Regions from separate parts of the Homo sapiens genome. Here all the other regions are linked to region 2. The links come from fine-mapping of genetic effects on gene expression. A gene starts in region 2. Each other region holds a variant in brackets. All regions are shown on one strand. Distances are between the middles of the regions.

Region 1 (5,225 bases), 84 kb after region 2:
TGGGCAGGAGGTGTTGGGCAGCCCCAAGATCTGTCCCATGCTTTCCCAGCAGGTCCCCTAGCAAGCAAGTCCTCATGCCTCATTAGCCAAAACTGTCACAGGTAACCAGCTTCAAGGGAAGCTGAAAGTGGGGACTGAATCATCATGATGGCTGTGCAGGGACCCCATTCCGGATCAATTATGTCACACTCGCTGAAGCCAAGGCTCGTGGGTTGTGATGTGAAGACTGGGCTGCGAGCCACTGACTGAGACCAGTTCATCACTGGGCACAGTGCTACCCTGAACAAAACTGGGTCCTGTGGGCAAGGGAGAAGCTGGGAGCTGATATTAGGTGGAGATGAGCAGTCTGAGCATGGTGCTCCACAGGGTGTGGCGGTTCGGGCGCCCCTCATCCTTCTGGGGGAGTTCACAATGCATTCATTGATCCCTGGTGTCTGGGGCACTCATCTGTCATTGCCCCTTGCCCCTGTCCAGCCCTTTGTCCTTTTCTGTGATGGCCTGAGTTGCTAAGCCAACAGTCACATCCCTGGAAAGAAAGCCCTCTATCTTTCCAGCATTGGGCACAGTCTCCTTCTCATAGTTGGTGCATATAGGTCAGAGTTTAAGGTGCCTTGCCTTCCCCATCCCTCCCTTCCAGAGTCTCCCTAGGGAACAGGCCTTAAGGATAGGTAAGGGGTTTGGCCCATTGGCAGAAATCTACTTTTGCCATTAGGTGCAGCCTCTGCCTTTTTCACTAGGCCCCTGCTTGGTAATTCACACCCAGGTGCCTTTCAGTTGGCAATGTCAGGAATACTCCAGGATTACCTGTTGTGATTGAGGGGTTGAGCTGAGGGGGTAAACTAGTTCGTGGCTGTGCCCTGTGGGCCTGGTGACCTTCAGACAAACACATGGAGTGTGTGTTTGAACTGGGACACAGGCCGTGTTGATGAAGTATCTGGTCTGTGAGCAACACCACACCTGTGGCTCCTGACACCTGGGCCAGCACTTCCCTCAGCCTCCCAGCAGAAGCACCGAGCAGCAGGGCTGCTGTGTCATGGACGCTTAGACCTGCTGTCTGTTGCTTTGCCTTTCCTAGCCCTCGGTCAGGTGTCTGTGCGGACACATCTGTTCCCCCAACTTGTGTGGGTTCCTGAAAATTATGGACCCCTGCCGCTTACGACCGTTGTCCTTGGAGTCCAACGGTGCCGGGCATTGGGAAGAGGTTTGGTTGTTGAATGACTGGATGATGGTCAGAAGTCCTTTGTTGCCGTTATTCAATTGCTTCAGGCACAGGGGAGTTAGGGGGTAAAGTGGGTGTCTTTCTTTCTCATGATTTAGTCCTGTTGGTCCCCACAGCCCCTAAGGACTGCTGGTACTAACAACACATGAGATATTGGGGGGTTACATCAATTGAGGCAGGAAGGAAAACTTGAAAGGCAGATCAAGACAGATCATTTACTGACTTTTCAAATAATTGCTTTCTGAAGAGCAGTGTTTTGACTCACCTTGGCTTTGCAGGTGGGAGCTGTATTAGGCTGTTAGGTCAGGGAAATGCCTTCCTCTTTGGTTCTGCTGCATCTCACAACCTCCGTGGCACATAAAATGGCCTAGCAGTTGTTGCTGAGAAAACTCGGGCCCTTGGCCATTCACTCTGGCCCAGCTCAAGCTTTGCATTTCCCAGGAAGCATCATGGGTGCTTTTAAACCATAGTTGACCTCATAGTCTTCTTTCCCTGACTGCTCATGCTTAGTACTGGAGCAGTGGGAACAGGTGATTTATGTGATTTATCTAAGGTGGGTGCTTAGTTGCACAGAGGAGCTAACTCATCAGTGCTTCCATACAGGGTCTCCTGCACCCACTGCTGCACCAGCCAAAGGCAGTCAGTCATACTCTTAGACAAGTGAGCTCGTTTTGTCTCAGCCTGGGGTTGAATCTCCCATCTACAGTCTGTTGTCAGGTCCTCAGACTTTGCATTCCCAGTGGAGCATAGGGAAGGGTAGGAGGCCCTGAGCTCCCAGCTGTGGCCGTTCTCACCCCTGGCCTCCTTGGGAATATCTCCACTTGTGGTCTGGGTTAGACTTGTTTGTTTGTGTTTGAAGTTCCCCGACTCTGAGTTTGACGTCAAGGCAGGATTGCTAGTGGGAGGCTTGGCGGGGAGGTTGTCTCTACACAAATGTAAAAGCCTGGCAGCTTCCCCAGGAGAGTGCGGGTATGGGCCGGGCCGGGAGAGGGCTGGCTGTTGCGAAATGCCCAGCTCAAGGATTGAGGTCACTTGTACTTTCTCCTCTCCTTGCCCC[A/G]CTTTCCCTGTGTGCCTCTCCTGCTCTGTCCCATGCCCATGAATGTCAGCCCCCGTGGGCGCCCTTGAGGGCTGGGCAGTGCTGGGAGCCAAGGGGCTGCCTCTGGTCCCCTCGGAGCTGGGTGCTATGGTCGCTGCGTGCCTGTGCGTGGAACTGTCAGCTGCATCACAACCTCCAGAGGCCTCCTTACATTCTCAGAAATCATTTTGCAACAAGTTGGCCATGGCAGCCAGGCTAGACTGCTTAGCTGGCTGGGTTGGTGGGAAGTCCCCAGAAATGCACTCCAGCTTTGGGAAGGAAGTGGAAGATGTAAGGGGAGCTTCCCCGAGGCATGGACAGAATGGGTCAATAGTGGAGGAGGAGCAGCAGCTTCAGGGACCACTGGAATGAAGGCTGGAGTAAGTTGCCAGGGCTTTGGTGGCATCCTGAAGTTCGGGATGGTATAGTCAGGGACTTGGCAGGAGCAAAGACTGCTGTGGGCACCACGTAAGAGTCTGGTGCTGCCTACTGAGGAGAAAGGAGTCAGGGTCTTGTGGGTGCTGGTGAGCTGGAAGCTGGTCCACAACTGCACCTGCCACAGGAGGACTAAATAAAACAAGAGGCAAGTGATGGACGAATGGAGTGGCTGTCCAGTTACTTCGTGTCACTCTGTAAAGCATACTAGGATCTTCTTAAAAGGGATGGCCTCAGGTTATAGGCAGCATGATGGCTAGTTTTAATGAATTTAATGCTGGCTTAGAGCCAGGGGTGGGGTACAGCCCAGAGGGTAGGTTATTGCAAGTCAGGACCAGAGGTGGTGGCCCAGTTGGGTGGCTGGATACATTTAGAGGGTGTGGGCAAGCCTGTGGCTCTTATTCACAGGATTCACTGCCTGGAACAGTCTAGGCGTGGCTGGATTTTGGGCTTTGGATCGCAAAAGAGGTAGACCCTGCCCACTGCCATCCTGCTTGTACCAGTCAAGACAGCTTAGGGTGTGGGTTGCAGGAGTCATTATTTTGAGAGGTGCATAGAGAGCATTAGATTGAGGTTGGAATCCCTTCTTTAACCACAGGATTCAAGAAAGTTACAAAGGCTGGTGCCTTGGTTTCTTCATTGTAAGATGGGAATGATGAAGTACACCTTTAAGTCTTGTGGGTTTCACATGAGAGGTTTCATGATTTGTGAGTGACGGCAAAGGATGAGCAGTGACTTGTCATTTGGCTGAGGCTGGACTCGATGGCAGGCATGCAGGTGAGCATCCCTGAGCCAGTGAGTGAGCCCAGTGTGCTGTCCAGCACCCACATCCCGATGTAGCTTTGTTTTTCTTTACTCAATGTTGAATACACAGTACATCCCATCAGAAGTCTGGAAGGGTCTGTAGTATTTTCAGTTACACATGATTGTATTTTGTGGAGGGAATGATGTGCTTTAGGGACATTGCCAGCTTTGGGTTTGTGTGTGAAGATTGGGACATCAGTCACCCTTGTGCTATCAGGGATCTACTCTAATTCCTAGCCTCTGAAATTTTCACTGACAATCCAGGTAGAGGAAGTGATATGGTACCATACATAAGGAAAAGATTGTTAACACTACTAGGTTGACAAATGAGTATTGACATGATTCTGTAACTGAGGGAGCCTGCTACTATACATGGGAAACTGGTGTCCATGTTAGCCTGTGCCTTGGATTCATTTACTCATTTATATGTTAACATCTGTGACATCTGTCACAACAGATTTAACCCCCTGCCCTGCTTCTGAGACATGAAGATCTGGGCCACTGAGAGGGTCCTGTGGCAGCCAACGACCAAAGTCAGGGTTAGGGTGACAACCTATAATAGGCCTTGGCATCTGGCTGCTAACATAGCCAAGATCATGGGTTTGAGAGTTGCCCACAGAAGAGATCTCCCCATCTCAGGCCCTGCAATTTTAGGGTGGAGCTGACTTTGTTTGCAAAGTCAGTCGTCTGGAAAGAGGTGTTTTTTGCAAAGGTGCAAAAAAGCCTGGGTGGGGTATAATCCAAACGGCACCTGCCAAAAGTCTTCATGCTCCTCCTTTTCGAGGTCATTCTGCAGGCTGAGCAGGAGTAACACTAACAGAGTTCTATTTAGTGAGCACTTTATATGTTCTGGACATTGGACTAAACACTTTGCATACATGAGTCTGCAGCAAATTCTCAGCAGTGCTATGGGGCATGTATTATATTTTCTCTGCTTTACAGAGAAGGAGACTAAGATGATATGATCTAGATCCTGCCACACAGCTGATGTGTGATGGTGCGAGGGGTAGAGCCTCCTGGCTGCCAAACCCAAGCTTCTCGCAGAGGAGATGGGACCACTAACTAATGGTAGGCATGACCTCTGACCAGTCAGAACAGGTGCTGGTGGTAAACAGGAGGCGTGGCTCATCTGCCTGTCACTGCTGCACTTCCAGCCAGTCCAGCACAATGGCTGGCCTGTCCCTGTCCACACACCCTGTGGAAGCCGCCCGTGGGAGCTCTCTGTCTAGACTGCCATTTTAGCTGGTGCTAAATGGTCTTGCTTTTAGAGGCAAGGCAGCTATTGCTCCAGCTCCACTGTGGCAGCCTCCAAGGGATGGTTGGTTCTGTGGCCACAGAGGAACCCAGCCTCCCAAATCAGACTGGCCCATGGGTAGGTTGCCTGGGACAGCCATGACACACCATGGAGGATGGGCCCAGGACCCATGCTATGGGGCACCAGCTATGGAGAGGCAGGTTGGGGCGCAGTGTAAAGGAAGGATGACAAGGAAGGGACCTGCAGGGTAGGGGTGTGAGGCCTCCATGTTCCTGGGGATCCCTGCAGTTCTGGGGGCTGTGTCCTTTACCTGAAGAAGTCTCTTTCCTCAGTGGCACGTGCTTCTCCTTGGCACAGTATCTGCTCAACCAGGCCCGTGCTCTCCAGGGATGTCTGACAAGCCTCACCACCATCCAAGTGATACTCGTGGAGCCTCC
Region 2 (5,225 bases):
GCATGGTGGCACACTCCTATAGTCCCAGCTACTTGGGAAGCTGGGGTGGGAGGATCGCCTGAGTCTGGGAGGTCGAGGCTGCACTGAGCCATGATCATGCTACTGTACTCCAGCCTGAGTGACAGAGCAAGACCCTGTTTCAAAAAAAAAAAAATCTTTTGTGAATTGTGTTAGAATGAGTGAGTCGTTCAAGCCTGGCAGCTCTGGCTGCTGGACAGAGGCTCTGAACCAGCCAGGTTGGGTTGTGGATAGTCCCTTGAGATAGTTCTCTGCCCACTGACCTTCCTCTGTGCCTAGGCTTCTCAAAGTATAGACTTGCGACTGGGCTCAGACTAACCACATCAGTACCACCTGAGAACCTGATAGAAATGCAGATTCTCCTGCCCTGTCCTCTGATCTACAAAATTAGAAACTATAGAGGTGAGCTCCATGGTTCTGGGAATTAACAAGCCCTCCAAGTGATTCTGATGCATGTTCAAGTTTGAGAACCACAACTAGTTTCCCTTTCATAATAGTTACTACTTTGCAAGGAGTCGGATGGGGTTAAGGTAACAGGTTGAGAAATTCATAATATCGTGCAGGCGGTCTTTTTATAAGTTGAGTGAGGACTGGATCAATGACTCTCAATGGGAAAGGCCAGGGGTTAGGGAGGAACCTCCTTGCATTTGGAAAATCTCGAGGAGGGGTTAATTTGCAAAAACAAGTTTTAAAGTTATAGTTTTGCTTCCTAGACCTGATTTTTAAAAATTTATTATTTTTTTTAGAGACAGGGTCTTGTCACATTGCCCAGGCTGGTCTCGAACTCCTGGCTTTAAGTGATCCTTCCCCCTTGGCCTCTCAAAAGTGCTGGCATTACAGGCATGAGCCACGGTGCCCAGCCCTTAATTTATTTCGAAGGCTGGTGTAATATAAACATTAAAGGAAGGTGTAATACAAACTGCCATCCATTATTGATTGTTTTAGTGTCTACAAGGTTTGGATCCCACCTCCTGTCCAATTCTCATCCTCAAACACAAAAACAAAACCAAAAAAACAACTGTCTATCTACACACACACACACACCCTCGGCTGGCCTGAGAGGTAAAAGAAACATCCCATAGGACCTGCTGAAAGAGCTCCTGAGGCACGCTGGAGCCTTTCTTGTGTGCCATGCACTGTATCTGGCACTATAAAGAGGGTACAATAGCTAGTGGCTTCTGCAATCAAGCAGCTTACAAGAGAAAATTGAGAGGGGAGACATTTTTTCTGGTTGACAGATGTCGAAAGCATGAAGGTGTGGGAGCTTTGATCAGAGACTTGGTTTTTCAGTTTTGCCAGATAATAGAACGCATGGGGTGAACTAATGGGAGAGGAGGGTGAACAGATGGGCAAGGCTTGATTGCTGGGTTAGGAGGCACAGAAATGCACAGAGGACAAAGGACTACCAGTCCTTGGCAGTACTGTACTGCTCCATGGCCACTACCTGGGTCCAGGGCCACATTCAGATCTGAGGTTAGATAGTAAGAATTGCTAACATTTATCCAGCGACCACATGTGCCAGTAATCAATCTAGGTGCTGTACATGTATTAACTGATTCTTCATAGGAACCCTATTAAAGAGTTATTTGATGAGGAGAGTCGGGCATTCACTGGAAATCGAACGTGCCCAAAGTCTCACCCTAGACCGTGGTGGAGTCAGAATTTGAATCCTGGCCACTTGCTCCGAAGCCACCGACAATTCAGTGTGCTGTCCCCCGTGTCTGGGCTGGCTTGGTGGGCTGGGAATGGCGGGGGAATGGGACACTTATTTTGGCAGGTAAATGTGGTTCAGAAGAAAGCTCTTCGTCTTTCTCCAAGCCTGAGCAATCGTTTTGGCGCAGGCAGTCCAGAGTAGAGCGCTTTGTGAGCCAGCTACAGAAGTGCTGTAAGCCCCTTCCCACTAGATGGCAGCCCCTAAACCCACATACAAATCCTGGAACCTCCCTGGTCCCCATCTTCCAGGGCTGGGCTGCAGCTGAGGAACTGCGGGACGCACACCCGCCGGGCGTCCAGGGGGCGCCGCCCCATCCGGGGGTCGCGGGAAGCTCCTAGGCCGGGTGGGGGACGGAGGCGGACGGGGAGACGCTGCTCCCCCGACTCTCGGCGCCTGGGGGAGGAGCTGGCGCGGAGCAGCTCCACCCGGGGCTCCCGGTTGGGGCCGGCCCTCACCGCCTGCCTCGCCGCGGCCGCCGGGAGGGGAGGGGAGAGGAGGGCAGGGAGGGCGGCGCGGGCGCGGTCCGGGGCCCCGAGGGCGGAGGCCGGCGGCAGGTGCGCGGCGTGGACTACAAGTCCCAGCATGCCCGGCCGCCCTGACCCAGCCCCCGCCGCCGCTTAAAGGCTCCGGGAGCCGCAGCCGTCGGGTCGCCGCGGCTTTCGCTTTGCTGCCGCGGCTGGGAGGGTGGAAGCGGCAGACTCAGCGGCCGGCTCTACCGGCGTCCCGGCTCGGGCAGCGCCGAGGGGCGCTCCTGGTCCAGCTCTCCTGGCTCGGGGGTTCCTTGCCGAGGCGCCCGCGCCCCGGGCTCCCAGCCTCGGCCGCCGCGGCCCCGATGCCGAGGCATGGATAGAGCAGCGCTGCGCGCGGCGGCGATGGGAGAGAAGAAGGAGGGCGGTGGCGGGGGGGATGCGGCGGCCGCGGAGGGAGGCGCAGGGGCCGCGGCCAGCCGGGCGCTGCAGCAGTGCGGGCAGCTCCAGAAGCTCATCGACATCTCCATCGGCAGCCTGCGCGGGCTGCGCACCAAGTGCGCTGTGTCCAACGACCTCACCCAGCAGGAGATACGGACCCTGGAGGTAAGTGGGTCGGGGACCAGGCTGGGCTCGAGGAGCGGGCCCGGACACCTCCCTCCGGGCCCCAGTACTCCTGGCCGAGTTGCATCCTTGAGCCCGCGTCGCCCCCCTTGGAGGCTTCCCCTCCCTCCTGCACTCGCTGATGCGGCAGCCGGAGGACCCGGGACCAGCCCTCATCTTGGGCAGGATTTGTGGGGCGGGTGCGTCGTGGGAACTGGGATGGAGGCTCGAGGGGCCCGTGCGGGGTGGGCTGCGCGCGGACATCCCCTTTCCCCCCTTCTCCGCCCCCACCCCATTTCCAGTTTGCGGGGCCGCAGGACTCGTTGTCCCACCGAGTCACAAGCTGGACTTTTCCCCGTGTGACTGAGCCGAGCACCCGTGGGCCAGGGTGACGGAGGAGGTTCCCCTGAAGCGTGATCGCAGGCCTGCCGTCCCCTGTTCCCCTCACGCCCCAGACGCCGTCCTGTCCCTTCCTTTCCTCTCCTCTCAGGTCTTGTCTGCCGCCTTTTCAAAAAGTGTTGCTGAAACTGCATTTTTGTTATTCAGGCGTTTGGTGCTTTCCTTTCACGTTGCCACGGAGGCTCGCTGCTTAAAATGTATTAATAATTACCCGCTGACTCCCCCTGCTTCCCCCCAAAGATTGGATTTAGGCTTAGGAAGGATTATGCTGGGAAGCAAGCCTTTGGTGGGAAGATGAAACTGTTTAAAGGGTTCTGATGGAGACAGTCTGGAGTGTAAAGAAGAAATAAGATATGCGGGCCTTCCTCTCTCAAATTATAGCTGGGGAAGTATCTGAAGGATTTGGAAAAACCAGCCCGAGGGTTGTTGGGGCACCCTGTCCATACACAAATGAGGGCAACTAGTGGATTCTGAATGTGATTTTGGCCAGGGACGGGGCGGTGAAACGTCAGACCAGTTAATAGCTGCCCCGTCTTGAAGAAGGAACCTCTCACCATCTTGCCCTGCCACATCTGGCCTCCTGCAGGTCTGGGGATGTTTTGTTTTATTAGATCCTCAATTTCTCCTCCCCCAAACCCTCCCCCCGCCCCTTATTGCTAATTGCCTCTGCCAGCTGTCATAAGGCCCTCTGTGATCGCGGTAATTATTACAAGACCAATCCTTCCTCCAGGCATGCCACAAAGCCGAATCCTTGTTTGATTCCAAATGCTCGGGGGTGACTCTCCCTCAGTTTTATTTTCTTAAAAGCTATAAAACCACAGGACATTGGAAGAATACAGTCAGTGCTGGGTATTATTATTTTTTATTACAGTTGGCTAAAGCTGTACTGACCAAGGCTTTGCTTAAAAAACAAACAAAACCCCCTACAACTGGCCTTTCTGCATGCATGCTGCAGTTTTCCAAGTATTGAGAGAAACTGATTTTTTGAACACAGCTGAGTGTGTTTGCTCAGCAAAGTTCAGTTTTTAAGCTGACAACAATAGGGGGCCTGTGAGGCTCAGTTCCGGGAGGAGGGGTCGCTGTCTGGCAGAGTGTGCGTGGTTGGACTTCGGTGTTGCTGGGCTTGGAGAATGCTCTCTGTGTTGGCCTCTGTGGGATTGTCCCCACGTTGCTCTGAAGTGCTCCTGGCTTCCAGAGTGTGTATATAGGAGAACCACTTGCTGTGCATTCTCTGGAATGGCCTTTTGTCCTACCCTAACTTCCGGAGTCCCTCATTTTGATGGCAGTGTGGCGTTCATGACACCCCAGAGCATCCAGCTATTTAAGTGTTGGAGCTGGTTTATTCAGTGGCTTCCCTCCTGAGTGTTTGTTTAGACGATCATCCCTGGCAGCAGAGAACCCATCCAAAGGCCCACAGGGGATCTGCAGCTCCCTGTTCTTCCCACCGTGATGTGGATTCGGGTTCACTCCACTTCCTGAAAAGGCAGGGCCTGGGTTGTTTTGGGGGATGGGAATTTAGACCCCTGGAGTGAGTTCCATGGGGCTGCCACCAGCTAGTTTAGATGAGTCACTTCATCCCGGAGGCCTCAGCCTCCTCACCTGCAAAACAAGGAGGCTGGAGTGGATCTCTGAGGGCTCTGGAAGCTCGAAATTCTCTAGGTTAGAGAAGGAGACTTGGTTGGGTGAAATCAAATGTTTGTGATTGTTTTTATACTACCCTGGTTTAAGAATAACCCTCTTTAAGAATGGTTCTAAAATCCAGATTTACTGAACCCATAACATAGGGGTTAAGTTTATTAGAAGAATCTTTGCCATAGGAGCAGCGTGGTGAATAGGAAGCCCCATGGCTTTCATACTGGGCCTGGGTTCTGTCTGTGTGACCTTAGGCAAGTCCCATGACTTCTGAATCTCAAGCTCTCCTGTCTGTAAAATAGGAACGAGACTGCTCACACCTGCAGCATTTTGTCTGTCAGTCCGTGCTGATACTACGAAAAGAGTCTGCCTGGCAGCTGCCCCTAGTGAGG
Region 3 (5,225 bases), 120 kb after region 2:
TCCAGCAGCACTGCCTGAGGCATGTTCTAGGGATGCAAAACTGAACAGAAACACAGAGCCTGGGTTTGCTTCTTGATCTTCCTTCAACCCAGCTTTCACCCGTGTTCTTGCGTGAAGTGCAGTGTGTTTGTATACGTGGCCGGTACAGCAGCGGTGCCGCCCCTGGCATTTTCCTGGTCCACCTGACTGGCCACAGGGAGTGTGGCGCCTCTCAGTGTCAGCAGGCCCAGGTTTCTAAGTATAGACCCCAGGCAGCCCCGTGGCTGCTAGTAAATCCCTGGATACCATTTGATACCTAACTGGCCCTGAGCTGCCGGCTTACCCAGCATGGCCTGTGACGCCAGCCTCTGCCAGCTGCTGGGGGAGGGGGTAGCACGTTGCCCAAACCCATCCTCACCCTCCACTGGAGAGAATGGAGACCAGCAGTCTCCTGCTAATGACATGACTGGATTGTCACAGACTGGGAGTGACCTCAGCACTCAACTGGCCCTGCTCTCCAATTATTATCAGAAAGAATAACTTAATCCCACCTACTGGAGAACATATCTCCTGGTTTGAGAGAGACAGGCAGAGGCAGGGAGCCAATGATCTCTGATGCTGTCACTCTGCTCCTCATTCCTGCATCCCCACCTGTGTGCACCCATGCTAACCCTGAGACTTGTCGGAGCTGGGACTGGGCATCTCTCAAGATGGATTGGGCATCTCCTATGATGGTCTGGGCATCCATGTCTTCCGTTTTTGGTTTGTAGTTCCATATTTTGTTCTTTAGACAGAAGCTGGGGTGGGCAGTAATTCCTTGGAGGCAGTACGGACTCCCAGCCGGGTTCTCCAGAACTTTGGGGTATGGGCAGAGAGAGGGGCCTTTTGCCCTTGGCTTTGAGACAACTTAGCATCTTCTGGGCACCTCCTGGCAGATGGGATGCCCTCCTGGGGCACTGGAGCCTCTCAGACCTGAGAAGGTTTCAGAGTGGCTTCACCTGCGAGTTCACCTTCAGCAGGTGGCAAAACTGATTCCCTAATTTGTTTTTGGTTTAGAGATGATCCAGGAAAGTTGTGAGTTACTCTGCTTTGAAAACATCTTCCTAAATCAGACTTGGCTGTGCCTGTCACTGTGGGTGGGCGAGTCACATCCATGTGTGAGGTTTCGGGGGTGCTGAGTTGCTTTGGGGCACTGTTGAGTCATGATACTGGGAGATATCAGGGCCCCTCGCAGGGGCCTTCACAGCCACGCGACCGTCCTGGTAGCTTTCCTTTCTTGATTAAGTTAACATTGGGTCTCAGAGTCAGTTGTAGAGTTGGGAGGTGGGGCACTTTGTTTCCAGGGTGGGCCCCTCACTGAGAAAGCCTGGTCCCCTGGAGTACTTGCTACTGGGCCTGCATCCTCCCCCGTTTGCCTACAGAAATAAAGTTTTAGATGTCACTCACTGATCAGATTAACCTTGGAAGGCATCAGATTCTTCCCATGGGGTCTCCGCGCTTAGGCCTGGAAGCCCCATGTTCCTCATGGACATAATTTGTTTTGTTTGCACAGATTTGAATTAGTTATCACCATGTAAAAGCCAGCCATTTAAAAATAAAAATTCAGATTTCTTTAAAACCAGAAGTTCTGGTGCCCCTCCATTGCCTGCCCCTTTCCCCAACACCAAGGGAGGAAAGCGGGGGTTTTCTGTTTAGCATTGCCATTGCTGCCGTTGGGTTTCTTGTTCAGTAAAAAGGCAGAGAAGTGTGTTAAATCAAGTTTAGCCTAGAGCTACCTCCTTAGATATTTTAAGTTCAGCCTAAAGGTTTTTCTGTATATCATGAACTATAACAAGTGGAGGTATAAAAACACTGTAGACTGCACTTGTGCCAATCAAATGTAGCCAACTGTTCGAATCTTGTTCAAATAAGGCAAAGGAGCTGTAACCAATCCAGCTGTTTCTGTACCTCACTTCTATTTTCTGAAAGTAGGTAGAAATTAATTTACTTCGAAAAAAATAATTTCCCCTGAAAGGTAGCTGCTGTATCCCAAGGCTTTGCCAGGTTAACAAGTGGACAGCATGGAATATTTGGAGGAGGTTTGGAATCGTGCGCACGTGGGTTTCAATTCTGCTCAGCCACTTGTTAAGCTGTGAAGTCTCTGAGCCTCAGTAAGATGGACTTAACTCCATCTACTTGCGGAGTTGATTAAAGATAAAATAATGTATACAAAGCCCTAGGCATATTGTTCTGGCAAATAGTTTGTAATAATAAATGTAGTTACTTTGAGAACTTGAAACTTGGTATGGGTGAGGAGGAGATGAATAAAAAGAAAGAAAAAGAATCCCTATTTGCATTATAGTTAGGTTGAAGATTGGGTTTCCTCAGCCTGGCTCCCTCCCCAGCCCC[A/G]TTAAACATCTCTATCATCATCTGGGCAAACTGCTGAGTCATCACAGCCTTGGAGTATGTGGTGGAGAGACAAACTGAGGACACCCTTCCGGACAAGTAGAGGATTGCTTTGTTCAGATAAGGTGAAGGTTGCTCTTGTGCTTACCCTGACGGTATCGCCAAGGTGCTCTTAACAGTCAAATGAGGGCAAAGATATCCAAACCTCATTTCAGTGGAAGACAGGCTAAGGGAAAGAAAGCAAGACATGTTGATTGTATAGAAGCTTCTGCATGGCACCATTTGTCTAATCTGCCTCCCCTGCTGGTGCCGTTCTCATCAGTGGTTCCTGTGACACTTTAGTTTTATCTTCTGGAAGGCAACCAGGGTTTTGGCCAACCAGTGATGAGCTTCTTGGTACAGTTATGTGTCTGGCTTTATTTTGGTGTGATCATGCTAAGTGGTGATGTGATTCTTGCCTACAGCCCTGAAGATTGAAGAATATACTGAAAAGCTACAAAAGCATCTGCCGTCAGCGGGTACAGTAAAAAACAAACAAATACAGAAAGGCAGGCATCTAGCTCCAGCCTTGCTATGGGAGAGAGGGGTATGGGTTGGGCCTCATACCTTCAGGACTCAGCCAGTATCTTCATTAGGGTTAGTTTTGACGCTTGAGACAAGGAATTACAGCATGTAAATGGAATGACAATGAAATTAGTCCTTAAAAGTAAAATTAGACACAACTTGCTAAAAATCAGGATTGGCTTAGATTCTCAAGAACTGTGAGCTTTATAGCAGTCATTTGATGTGGAATGTCTGGCCTTCTCTGTTACAGAAAATCTGGAAAATATAGAAAGGGTTAAAGACAAAAAAAGGTCTGATCTGGTCCCATAGCTCTTTGAACTCTCTCTGCTCTAGTGCGCATCTTACTGCATTGTAGTTACCTGTTTAAATGTCTGTCACTCCTCCCACTGGGCTGTAGGCCACTTGAGACCAGAGGCATGTCCCATTGGTTTTTTATATTTGTCCCAGGTTTGGTATTGTTGCTGGATATAGGGGTCCCATTCTGGATCCCAAAAGAGGGTTCTTGAGTCTTGCACAAAAAAGAATCCTGGGTGAGTCCACAGAATAAAATGAAGGCAAGTTTATTAGAGAAGTGGAGAAACAAAAGAATAGCAACCCCGTAGGCAGAGCAGCCCTGAGGGCTGCTAGTTAGCTATTTTCATGGTTATTTCTTGACCATATGCTAAACTGGGGTAGATTATTTGTGAATTTTCTGGGAAAGGGGCAGGCAATTCCTGGAACTGAGGGCCCCTCCCCCTCTTTAGACCATATAGGGTAACTTCTGGGCATTGCCATGGCATTTGTAGACTGTCATGGTGCCGGTGGGAGTGTCTTTTAGCATGCTAATGCATTATAATGAGCATATAATGAGCAGTGAGGAAGACCAGAGGTCACTTGGGATACCATCTTGGTTTTGGTGGGTTTTGGCTGGCTTCTTTAGCTCATCCTGTTTTATCATGGGGTCTTTGTGACCTGTATCTTGTGACCTTCTCTCTCACCCTATGATTAAGAATGCCTGACTTCCTGGGGATGCAGCACAGCAGGTCTCACCCTCATTTTACCCAGCCCCTATTCAAGATGGAATGGCTCTGGTTCCAGTGCCTCTGACAGTGTCATGTGGCTCAAAGTAGTCAGAGCTGGAGAGGTTTCCTCCCTCCCTGATGAGAGGAAAGGGCACAAGTTTTGAAGTCCACTGAGCCTTGATTCTACCATTCATTCTTTGTATTTTCCATTGCTTCATAACAAATTTAGCAGCTTAACACACCACCCGCTTATCATCTCATGGTTCTCTAGGTGGAGGAATCCACTCAGGCTCTGCTTATATCCCTACTTGGGATCTCACAAGGCTGAGGTCAAGGTGTAGGCCAGGCCTTCCTCTTACCTGGAAGTTCTGGAGAAGAATCCACTTCACGTTCATTCAGGTTATTGGCAGAATCCATTTCCTTGTGGCTGGAGGTCTGAGGTCCTCATTCCCTCAATGGCTGTCAGCCAGGGGCTACTTTTTTTCCCAGAGGCCACCCCCATTCCCCTCCTCCTTCAAAGTCTGCTTTTCACGCTTCAGGTCTCTTGACTTCTCTGTTACCAGCTCAAGAGAACCCTTTGCTTTTAAAGGGCTCTTGTGATTGGATGAAGCCTACTTGGATAATTTCCCTTTTGCTGTATATAGTAATACCCCCTTTTCTGTAGGGGATATGTTCCAGGACCCTCAGTGGATGCCTGAAACCATGGATAGTACTGAATATATATATATATGATGTATACTGTGTTTTTTCCTATACATACATACCTCTGATAAAGTTAGTAAGTTGGGCACAGTAAGAGATTAATAATCAACAATAACAAAATAGAGCAATTATAACAATACACTATAATGAAAGTTACAGGAATGTGGTCTCTCTTCTCTCTCTCAAAATATCTTACTGTACTGTTCTCACCCCTCATCTTGTGATGCTGTGAGATGATAAAGTGCCTATGTGGGGAGAGGTCGTGGCAGTTGATCTGATAACCAAGATAGCTACTAAGTGACAAACAGGCCGGGAGTGGAGACAGTGTGGAGACGCTGGACAAAGGGACAATTCACGTCTCCGGTGGGATGGAGCTGGATGGCGCAAGATTTCATCACATTACTCAGAATGGTGCATAGTTTAAAACTATAAATTGTTTATTTCTGGAATGTTTCTGGCATTTTCCATTTAATAGTTTTAGGCTATGGTTGGCTGCTGGTAACTGAAACTGCAGATAAGAGGGAGACTTCTGTAATGTAACAAGATCAGGAGCAACACCAGGGGACAAAGGTCACAAGACCACCTTAAAATTCT

Which allele goes with the higher level. Alleles are on the strand shown, and positions count from the first base shown. SD is a standard deviation of normalised expression in the study named.
For the expression in monocytes after Pam3CSK4 of the gene that starts at base 2,379 in region 2, allele A in region 1 goes with a lower level than allele G (moderate effect, 0.67 SD a copy in Quach 2016).
For the expression in fibroblasts of the gene that starts at base 2,379 in region 2, allele A in region 3 goes with a higher level than allele G (small effect, 0.22 SD a copy in GTEx).

Evidence for each region. PIP is the estimated chance that this variant, and not a neighbour inherited with it, causes the effect.
Region 1: its variant is the best candidate, but not a certain one, in a credible set for the expression of KSR1 in monocytes after Pam3CSK4 (Quach 2016, PIP 0.67).
Region 3: its variant is the best candidate, but not a certain one, in a credible set for the expression of KSR1 in fibroblasts (GTEx, PIP 0.76).

What each region holds. Positions count from the first base shown.
Region 1 is chr17:27,538,391-27,543,615 of GRCh38, forward strand. All of the region lies in intron 1 of KSR1 (kinase suppressor of ras 1), which reads left to right. It overlaps LOC124903960 (a long non-coding RNA gene), which reads right to left. Exons shown (of 2, transcript XR_007065680.1): 2 at 1,409-5,225. Among named protein-coding and RNA genes, the nearest start is that of KSR1, 85 kb to the left of the region's middle. RefSeq lists enhancers at 1-635, 1,807-2,606, 4,416-4,916, 4,917-5,225. The variant A/G (reference allele first, on the strand shown) is at 2,277.
Region 2 is chr17:27,454,070-27,459,294 of GRCh38, forward strand. KSR1 (kinase suppressor of ras 1) reads left to right here and starts at 2,379. Exons shown (of 21, transcript NM_001394583.1): 1 at 2,379-2,805. The coding sequence starts at 2,575. RefSeq lists silencers at 1,909-2,668, 3,189-3,238 and an enhancer at 2,044-2,545.
Region 3 is chr17:27,571,665-27,576,889 of GRCh38, forward strand. All of the region lies in intron 2 of KSR1 (kinase suppressor of ras 1), which reads left to right. Among named protein-coding and RNA genes, the nearest start is that of LGALS9, 57 kb to the right of the region's middle. The variant A/G (reference allele first, on the strand shown) is at 2,368.